Linked DNA regions of Homo sapiens: region 1 is linked to region 2. The links come from fine-mapping of genetic effects on gene expression. A gene starts in region 2. The other region holds a variant in brackets. All regions are shown on one strand. Distances are between the middles of the regions.

Region 1 (4,390 bases), 130 kb after region 2:
TTTTTTTTTTTTTGCTGAATAAAAGGTCTGCGTCACATTTAAGTTTTTCTCAAAACCTAACACCTTTTTAGAGCCCTGCAGTTTTGGTGGCCATTGGAGACTTCAACATCCACCTGAAATCTATGCTTTCAATATTAGGATTTCCAAAAATAAAGGATTCTTGACTACATCCTGAGTTTTTCCCTATTATTAGATAATGTCAATTCTTCAGCTTTCAGAAATATTATACCACCTTGCATTATTTTGTCCCACATCTTTCTGACATCCTGAGTGCCTTATTTAGCCCCTGACCAGCATTTCCTCTCCAAACCCAGGAATGTTAGCATCTCCAAAGGGTTAGTTCTAAGCTCTCCATTGTTTCTTGTCTCTTAGCCATTGACTATATTCCACTGCCAAGATGAAGGCTTTTGGACTCAGACAGATCTATGTTTTGAATCCCAGCTCAGCTGTTCATTATATGCATCTCCACTGAACAGAACCTGGACTCTCTGAGTTGAATTCTTTCACTATCAGACAGAATTGATAACACTAATCTCACAAGATTGGTCTGAGGAATAAACGGTGCCATATTTAGAAAGCATCATACGTCCTCACAAATTATAGTCCTACTATGGTGATAATTTCTGTCATTGCCTTTTCACTGGAATTTGAATTCTTTTGGGGCTGGAGACTATGCCAGCTGTGTTAGTCTATTTTTATACTACTATGAATAAATACCCAAAACTTGGTAATTTATAAAGAAAAGAGGTTTAATGGACTCAGAGTTCCACATGGCTGGGGAGGCCTCACCATCATGGTGGAAGGTGAAGGAAGAGCAGAGGTACATCTTACGTGGTGGCAGGCAAGACAGTGTGTGCAGGGCAACTGCCCTTTACAAAACCATCAGATCTCATAAGACTTATACAGTATCATGAGAACAGCATGGGAAAAACCTGCCCCATGATTCAATTGCTACCACCAGGTCCCTCTCATGACATGTGGGCATTATGGGAGCTACAATTCAATGTGAGATTTGGGTGGGGAAGCAGCTAAACCATATCACCAACCTTGATCACTATTGTATACTTAGTGCCTAGAATGGTGCTTCCACATAGACAGTGCTACATACATGTAACCTGAATGTAAGCTGGCACCCATGTAGTAGAGTTTCTGAGGAGAATCCTAGTGACATTCACTCAGCCCAGGAGCCAGAAGTAGTGCAAACTGCAGCACATCCATTAACTTGCATTTCTCAGAAAAGGAAAACTGTTCATTTAAAATTTAAATTAACACTTTGTAAAATCTTCTTTTCCCTTTTTCTTCTAACCTATCATCCTCTCACAGCTCTCATTTCTTTCTCAATTCCTCACCCAAAACTTCTTTGCAAACCTCTTAGTTCTCTTCATTCCCTATATCCAGCAAGTTCTGCACCATGTTCATTTTGAAATATATGTTTTCAATGCACCTTAACTATAAATAATTGACTCATGTTATTCTGTCATATTGTAAAGGATTCTGCAAAAGCCCTAATGCCTAACAAGGAGACGTTACTACTAGAGCAGAAAAAGTGGAAACCGGTGTAAACCCAAGGGGACCATCAGAGTATAAGAAACAGTTAGTCTCCAGATCGGACAAATGAACATGTTCAAAGCAATAGAATGTGGAATCAGAATGAGGGAAGGCTCTGACCTAAACTGACTTTTGTGTTGCACTTCCTAATAATTTTGTGAAGTTCCACTCTGTCCCTCTTCATGATAAATTCCTGAGAGCAGAGACTTCAGTAATTCATTTATTCCTTTTGTAACAGTGTCCCAGCAAAGAACTAAGCATACTGCAGATTCTCATAAGTTGAAAAGGCACTTTTAATACATCTGATTTACCTTTCTTTAGGCCTGTAGAGACAAGGAGAAATAATCCTCCTCAGGAAGCTGAAGGGGGTAACTAGGGATACTAGATGCTGAGAGAATCTCTCCTAAAACATTGAATAAAATCTCCCTTAATTCAAGTGCTTTATTATTTCACCCCACATACATTTGAATAGAGTGCTGGTAACAAGTCTCATTCGCCTACTGATGATATTACAGAGAAAACGTTAATTGTTGGTGAAGAGTAGTTTAGAGAGTTTGACTAAAGAGTAGCATGATCTAATGGAAAGATGTAGACCTGAATTCTTATCTTTGCTCCAGCAATTATGAACTGTATGATGTGAAACAAGTCCTTTAATCTTTCAGTCTTAATTTCTATCTTTATCTGACTTCATCTTGTAGGGATGTTAGAGATTAACAAAATATTTAATGTAATACCTAGCATAGAATATTTCCTAAAAATTTGGTAGTATGGCCTTCATAATACTACAGTATTTTCTATATATTTTAACCTGAAGCTAGCAACCCAAAAATACAATCCTAAAAAAGAGAGATACTGAGGTTTTACCAAGAGTAAGATTTTCTTTACACTGCCATTTAATCTCTTTTTAAAAAATATGTTCTCTATGCATTGACTATTCCCATTGCATTTTGTCTACTCCTTGCCAGTTTTACCACTCACATCCTTCTGACTTATGCTGATGTTTTTCAAGTCTTGACTTAGTCACCTTTTGAATGCAATATTCAGGCTATCTAATTGGGCTTCATAAACCAACTCCTCCTGGATTTCAGTTATTTTCTCTGCTTGGTTTTGAGTTTCCCATTTAGGTTTGTTCGGGATCTTGGCACAGGTCCAGAGGAAGGCAACATGCCTGGGGTGGGGCATCCCTAGACACA[A/G]TGTTTTACCAGGTATGGGAGAAGTCTCTATGCCCCTGGTTATCTTGCAAAACCTCATTTGCTTCTGGCTGAGAACAGATTGCCCTCACCCTCCCCTTCATTTCGTAACTGTGAGAACAAAGAAGTCTGCTCCTGTGAGAGATAAAGTATTCAGCAGTGTTTGAGATGATTAGAAACAAGAAAAAGATTTCTTGTGGGTTTTGACAGGGCTTTCTCCTCTGCACTGGTGGAAGACAGAGCTTTAGTCAATATTCTGCTACTAGCCAAGAGGTTTACCGCAATTCTGATCCAAGCCTAACCCTGCGAAACAAAGAATTTCTTCATGCCATGAATAATCTGTGTTCTGCAGGCTGGGTGACCTCCTTCCCCGAAATGAAGTGCATAAGTGACTTTTGATCTAACAAGTTTATAGAGTGACTTCAGGGAAATCTCATGTTTAATTTGTGTATTGACCATGTAAATATGCGGCTTTGAATGTGATTGTTTGCTGCTGATGAGCCATCAATCAAGCTGCATTTTAAACTTGCTTTCGAAGCAGTGTTTACTTGAAATGAGTGTTTAGAAGACAGGGAGGAGGAGGGGGACATTTTAGAAATGTTCTTTGAGGCTATTTTAGAGATGTCCGTGACACCTATTTGCACATTTTGGGACTTTTATTCAAGTCAAAAAACATTTACTGAGCACACACAATATCCTCAGAAATGAACTATAAATCAGGACATAACATTATCAGTAACATTTTATGCTTACTCTGGGCTAATGCCTATTCTACTTTCTGGGGATTACCAAGAGCTAAGAGAACTGTATTTGTTTTCTAGGTTGCTGTAACAAATTACTACAAACCTGGAGGCGTAAAACAACAGAAATGTATTTTCTCATAATTATGAAGGCCAGAAGTCCAAACTCAAAGTGTTGGCAAGGTCACACTTCCTCCAAAACTGTAAGGGAGAATCTGCTGCATGCCTATCTTTTAACTTCTGGTAGGCACCATCAACCCTCAGCATTCCTTGGCTTGTAGTTGCATCATTCCAATCTTTGCTGCTCTCTTCATATTGCCTTCTCTGTGTATGTCCTCCGTTTTGTGTCTATCTCTGACTCCCTTTTCCTTTCGCTTTGAAGGATACATGTGTGATTGTTAGTTTTATATATTAACTTGACAGGGCCAATAGATAGGACACCAAAATCCCTCTCCATCTGTGGACATGAGAACCTCGAAAAAAAAAGTTATCTGCCTCCAAAATACAATGATGGGCAAGTGTAGTTAATAGTTATAAACACTGCCATTTTAAGGGAGACAATGGAAGATACAAAGTGGTCACTGATGCCAAGCCAGTTCAAAATCCAGCAAGGAAAATTTCCTTAGGTTTCAAGACCTGACAATTATTTTCTGTTGCTTGAAGCTATGATCTCTGGGTCTGGAGCTTTGCCCTCTGTACCCAAGGCTCTGCACTCAGAGTCATTCTTCTCTTTTTTTTGAATGATAATACATGTTTGTAGCCAACTAGTTCTATCAGCCCATTTTCTGCCTATAAAATCCCAGAAGTCTGACAGTCTGCCTTCATTATGTCCCATGTATGTCCCTTTCAGGCCAGTCTGGCAGTGTTTCTGCTGATACAATATTCCCCAAAACCTTGTGGGTCTCCCATGTT
Region 2 (4,390 bases):
AATCTCCGTATTATTGAGAAAGGGAAACTGAGGCACGTAGTTAAATGCCTAGTCCAGAGTGACGCATCACAGTGATGGTGGAGCTGGAATTCGAAGCCACGTGGGCGTCCCGGGAGCCTCCGCCTAGAGCGAGCCCGGGGGGCCCACCAGTTACCATCGCCACGCGCACGCGCAAATCTCCCCGCGCACGGCGCGTTCCCGCGGGAGCGCGCCCTCGCGCACGCGCCTGGCAGGGCAGCCGCTCGCCGGCCCTGGGGCTGCTCCGCGGCTCCCACGAGCGGGACTGGACGCCGGCGCCCTTCGAGGAGGGGCTGAACCTGGGGCGCCCTCTCTGCCGGGCCACCCAGCCCTGCCGACGCACACCTGCCCTCCGCCGCCGGCCTCCCACCCCTTCCCCGCCCGCCTTCCCGCCCAGCAGCCCAAACGCCCACCCTGCGCTCCACCCTGCTGGCCGTCTGGGGCGGGGGTACCTGGGCCCGCGCGGCTGCTGCTCCTCCGGCCCGTGGTTTTTCGCAGGAGTTCCCCGGCCCTGCCCCTGGCTGAGACACTGTGGCTCGCAGCGAGCCCGGAGAGTGGGAACGGAGGGGCTGGCTTTCCCCAGCCTCCCGGCTCCAATCCCTGCTCCCCAAATTAATCACTTTCTCCGTGCTGCCTCCCCACGCACACTCACACTCCAAAAAAAAAAAAAAAGCGAGAGAAAGAGAGAGGCACAAAGAGGAAGAAGGGACCATCCGCGACCGGCATCTCCAGCCCCCCGGGCTCCGCTACCAGGAGCCATGGCAACCACGGCCCCCGGCGCGCCCTCTCGCCCCTCGGCGGTCTGGGGAGGTGGAGCTCTAGCCCCTCTCTGGGTTTTCGTGCTCCCCAACCCCACAACCCCACGGTCCATGGATTCCCCGCTCCAGGCTGGCGGCATTTTCGGAACCCCCCCCGGGCTGGGATCTAGAATCCTCTCCTGAGAGGAGGAGCCACACAGGGGCAGTGGACTGGGGGGGTCTGAGCCCCACACACCAGGCGGTGTCCAGGGGAGCGAGGGGCGCGGTGGGAGACAGAGGCCGGGACTGACCCCCAGACCAGCTAGACCTCGGAGCCCCACCCGAGAGAGGGCGGAGATCTACGGGGGGGTCTGGAATCCTCCTCAGAGAGCAGCGAGGGATGGGGTGGCGGAGGCTGGAAGCGGGAGGGCCAACCTACCGGCGGCCGGCGGGCGTGAGTGGGACCCGGCGGATTCGGGCGCCCGGTGTGCTCCGTCGACTGACCCCGAGCTGTCCGAATCCGGCCTCGGCCACCGGGGGCGGGGCGTGAAAAGGGGGCGTCTCCTCCCGGGTGCAGGCTGAGGGGCCCGGACCACCCCCACTGCGGACGAGGGACCCTGACCGCGCCCCGCTTCCTTTCCATAACGAGTGGACCCCTCCCGGAGCACCTTCAGCCCTTCCTCCACGGGAGACCCCCCCAGCGCCGGCACGAGAGATGCCAGCGGACCCCCACCCCTGACACACCTGCGCCGCCTCCGAAACGCGATCTGTCCGGCGCCTCCCCTCGGGCGCCTTCTCCCCCGAGCCGGCCGGGAGCCGGGACGGGGGCGCGCAGGGTCCGGTAAGCTCTGGGCGGATCCAGGGAGGGTCTCGCCGGCCGCTGCCCGCTGGTCCGCACCCGGGGCTGTCCGCGGAGGTCCCGCCCGTCCCCTCCCGCCGCTGGCTCTCTGGCCGCGGGAAGGCTGGAGCCGTTCTGGCTGGCACCGGGGTCTACGCCCTCCTGCCGGAGGCTGGCTCTCGCCTCTGCTCCCTTCCTGGGTTCTGCGCCGCCACCCCTCACCCACGCCGCTTATCTTCCCTCCCTTTGCACGCTCCCGCGGGACAGGGAGAGTTACAGGCTTCAGACTTTATCTCGTTGTGGAAAGCAAGAGACCAAGCCAAAAACTTTGGTCGTGCTTTTCAACATCTCCGGTCAAAAGAGGTAGGATCCCTGCTCGTTTATCTGCAAAAGCGACATTTAAAAGAAACGCCCCCCACCCCCTCCCCGATGGTTTCACTCGGTTCATGTTGCACACACAGGTCGCCAATCTGCTTTTCTCCCATTGCTGCGTCTTAGAGGGGTGTGGTGCCATGTACGTATTAAAAATTGTCTTCTTGCTTTCCTTCATTTAAGGGCGTGGTGGGGCTTGCTATTGAATTTACAAAATATGCTACGACCATCCGCTGTCAAATTGTGCATGCTTAAATTTACAGATCTTCTACTATCTCACAATTTTTGCCCTAATACAGAGTCTATAATGTTACCACATCGTTTCGTAACGTTTTTCCTACTTATCCTTTATTAATTCACTATTGGAGAGGAAAGCCTTCTGTACTCATATTCAGTGCAAAAAGCCAGTTCTGATGCCTTATGAATCCACAAACACATAAAAATATTTTAGGATTCCAAAATTCATATGGAAAAATTATAATTTTTAGCACTACATTTGATTTATATGCCACTTTATTTTTTTTCCATTATGGTGGTATTTTCCAAAATTTTTACAGGATACCACTTTTGAAAATCCTGTTGAATGCAAGTCCTCTTTGTTGGTAAGAGAATTATTGACTTCTAATTTTTACTCCACTAAGGCTGTGAGATTGACCTTACAGCCTCGTTTTGTTTTCATCTAGCTCATTGAACAATGAGGATATTTAGCTCCCCTCAGAGCTACCCTCAGAGTTGGATGAGCTATCCTCAGAGTTGGATGCCACCACCGGGAGCAGCAAAAGCGAAGGCAACTCATGATTCTGCCTCAGAAGCAATCGAATAAAATATTTTGAAAATGAATGAATGGACTTTTAAATTTTAATCATCGCTAACCTTGGGGCCTCGATTCTGTCAATTTGTGTGTGGGCACAGTTCTTACCAACTGCCTTGGCAAATTGTGAATGCAAGTGAGGGCAGGATTTGTCCTAAGTTTAAATTGTACTGCTGGAGTGATTTCTTTTGCCTGAGGCATCATTATTCACGTGGCATGTTTTCTAAAGTAGAAACAAAGATAGAATATTAAATAAAATTCCAACAGGGGGAAATACTCTGCCTGTAGAAAAACATTTCCAAGGTCAAGGAACCACAAGAGAACAACAAAGCGAAGTTGGTCTCAGGAGTTTACCATCTTCTGGGTGAACAAACATCAGCTGAGCAAGGGACTCGGAACTCCATTTTGGCCAGATGAACAGAGTACTCTTAAATATATAGCTCCTTCTTTCTTGGTGATTTGTTTCTTGACAATAGAATCATTATTTACAAAACAAATATTTATTGAGCAGCTACTATTTAATCAATCACTGGTCTGGGTGCTGGGCTCAGTAGGAAACTCAATAGGCATGGCCAGTAGCTTTTTAAAAAATCAAATACCCTCCAAATATATTAGACAGTACCAAGCCACAATACCCAAAACAAGAAGATGGCCAGTTCTTAACTATGAGTTTTTAACTGAAAGGGAGATAACATTCTTCTAAGCTTCTGGCATTGCATATAAATGAAGAAATAATAGCCACACATAGCTTACTAGGGACAGTAAGGAAGTCAGCTTGTATGCAATACACGTTATCCCAGGCAACCAAATTTTACGAAAGAAAAGAGGGAGATAGGGAAAGTCTAGGGAAGGAAAAAAGGGAGGAAGGAAGGAAGGAAGGGAGGAAGGATGGAAAGAAAGAAGGCCAGCAAATGATAAACCAAGAAAGGAAATCGTACTTTTTAAGGCAATGCAAAAGGAAGACAGATGACCTAAATTTCTACATCCAAGAAACACCTCATAGCTGTCGCTTCCAAGGATGAGTTCATATTTTTGATACATTATCAAAAGCAGGCAACACATCTAGGCTTGCCTGGCCCCAGGAATTCACAACTCTACAGCCTGAGCTTCCAGTAAGGCTGGAACCAGAAGACAGTCCCCAGCCAGAGCGGATGCTTGCTAGAGATACCTTCTGCTGCTGCTTTGGAACCCTCCCCTGGCTCCCATTCTACTGTCTGACACTTGGTTCAGACCCATTTCCCATTCAACATACAATCCTAATCTATCAGGCATCCCACAGTTGCACCTAGGTGCTAGAGAAAGAAGATATACTTATGAGTCACATGGAAATGTGATTGCCGTAGCTTTGAAAGGTGTGAATTTTCTCTCTGATAATTGAGGACGGCCGTTTCGAATGAAAATACTAATATCAAGCCACAAAAATAGGGGAGAAAAGGGCCCTATCATGAATAGAAGCAGAAGGTGAGAGAGAGGCCAGTCATCTGGAAAAAGATAAAAGCTATTAAAAGCTGGGGCATTTTTCAGCTTTTCCTGCTGATTTACTGCCTCCCTCCCTCCCTCCTGAACCATCATTTGGTATCATTCCCAGAGCTAGGGCCATTGAAGTAGTATTGC

What was found. PIP is the estimated chance that this variant, and not a neighbour inherited with it, causes the effect. A credible set is the group of variants that fine-mapping cannot tell apart.
Region 1: its variant is the best candidate, but not a certain one, in a credible set for the expression of CHL1 in testis (GTEx, PIP 0.67).

What each region holds. Positions count from the first base shown.
Region 1 is chr3:62,034-66,423 of GRCh38, reverse strand. All of the region lies in intron 1 of LOC105376921 (a long non-coding RNA gene), which reads right to left. Among named protein-coding and RNA genes, the nearest start is that of LINC01986, 52 kb to the right of the region's middle. The variant A/G (reference allele first, on the strand shown) is at 2,742.
Region 2 is chr3:194,173-198,562 of GRCh38, reverse strand. It overlaps CHL1 (cell adhesion molecule L1 like), which reads right to left and starts at 1,800. Exons shown (of 28, transcript NM_006614.4): 1 at 1,500-1,800. It overlaps CHL1-AS2 (CHL1 antisense RNA 2), which reads left to right and starts at 1,222. Exons shown (of 4, transcript NR_144487.1): 1 at 1,222-1,596; 2 at 2,055-2,107; 3 at 2,523-2,567; 4 at 2,649-2,805.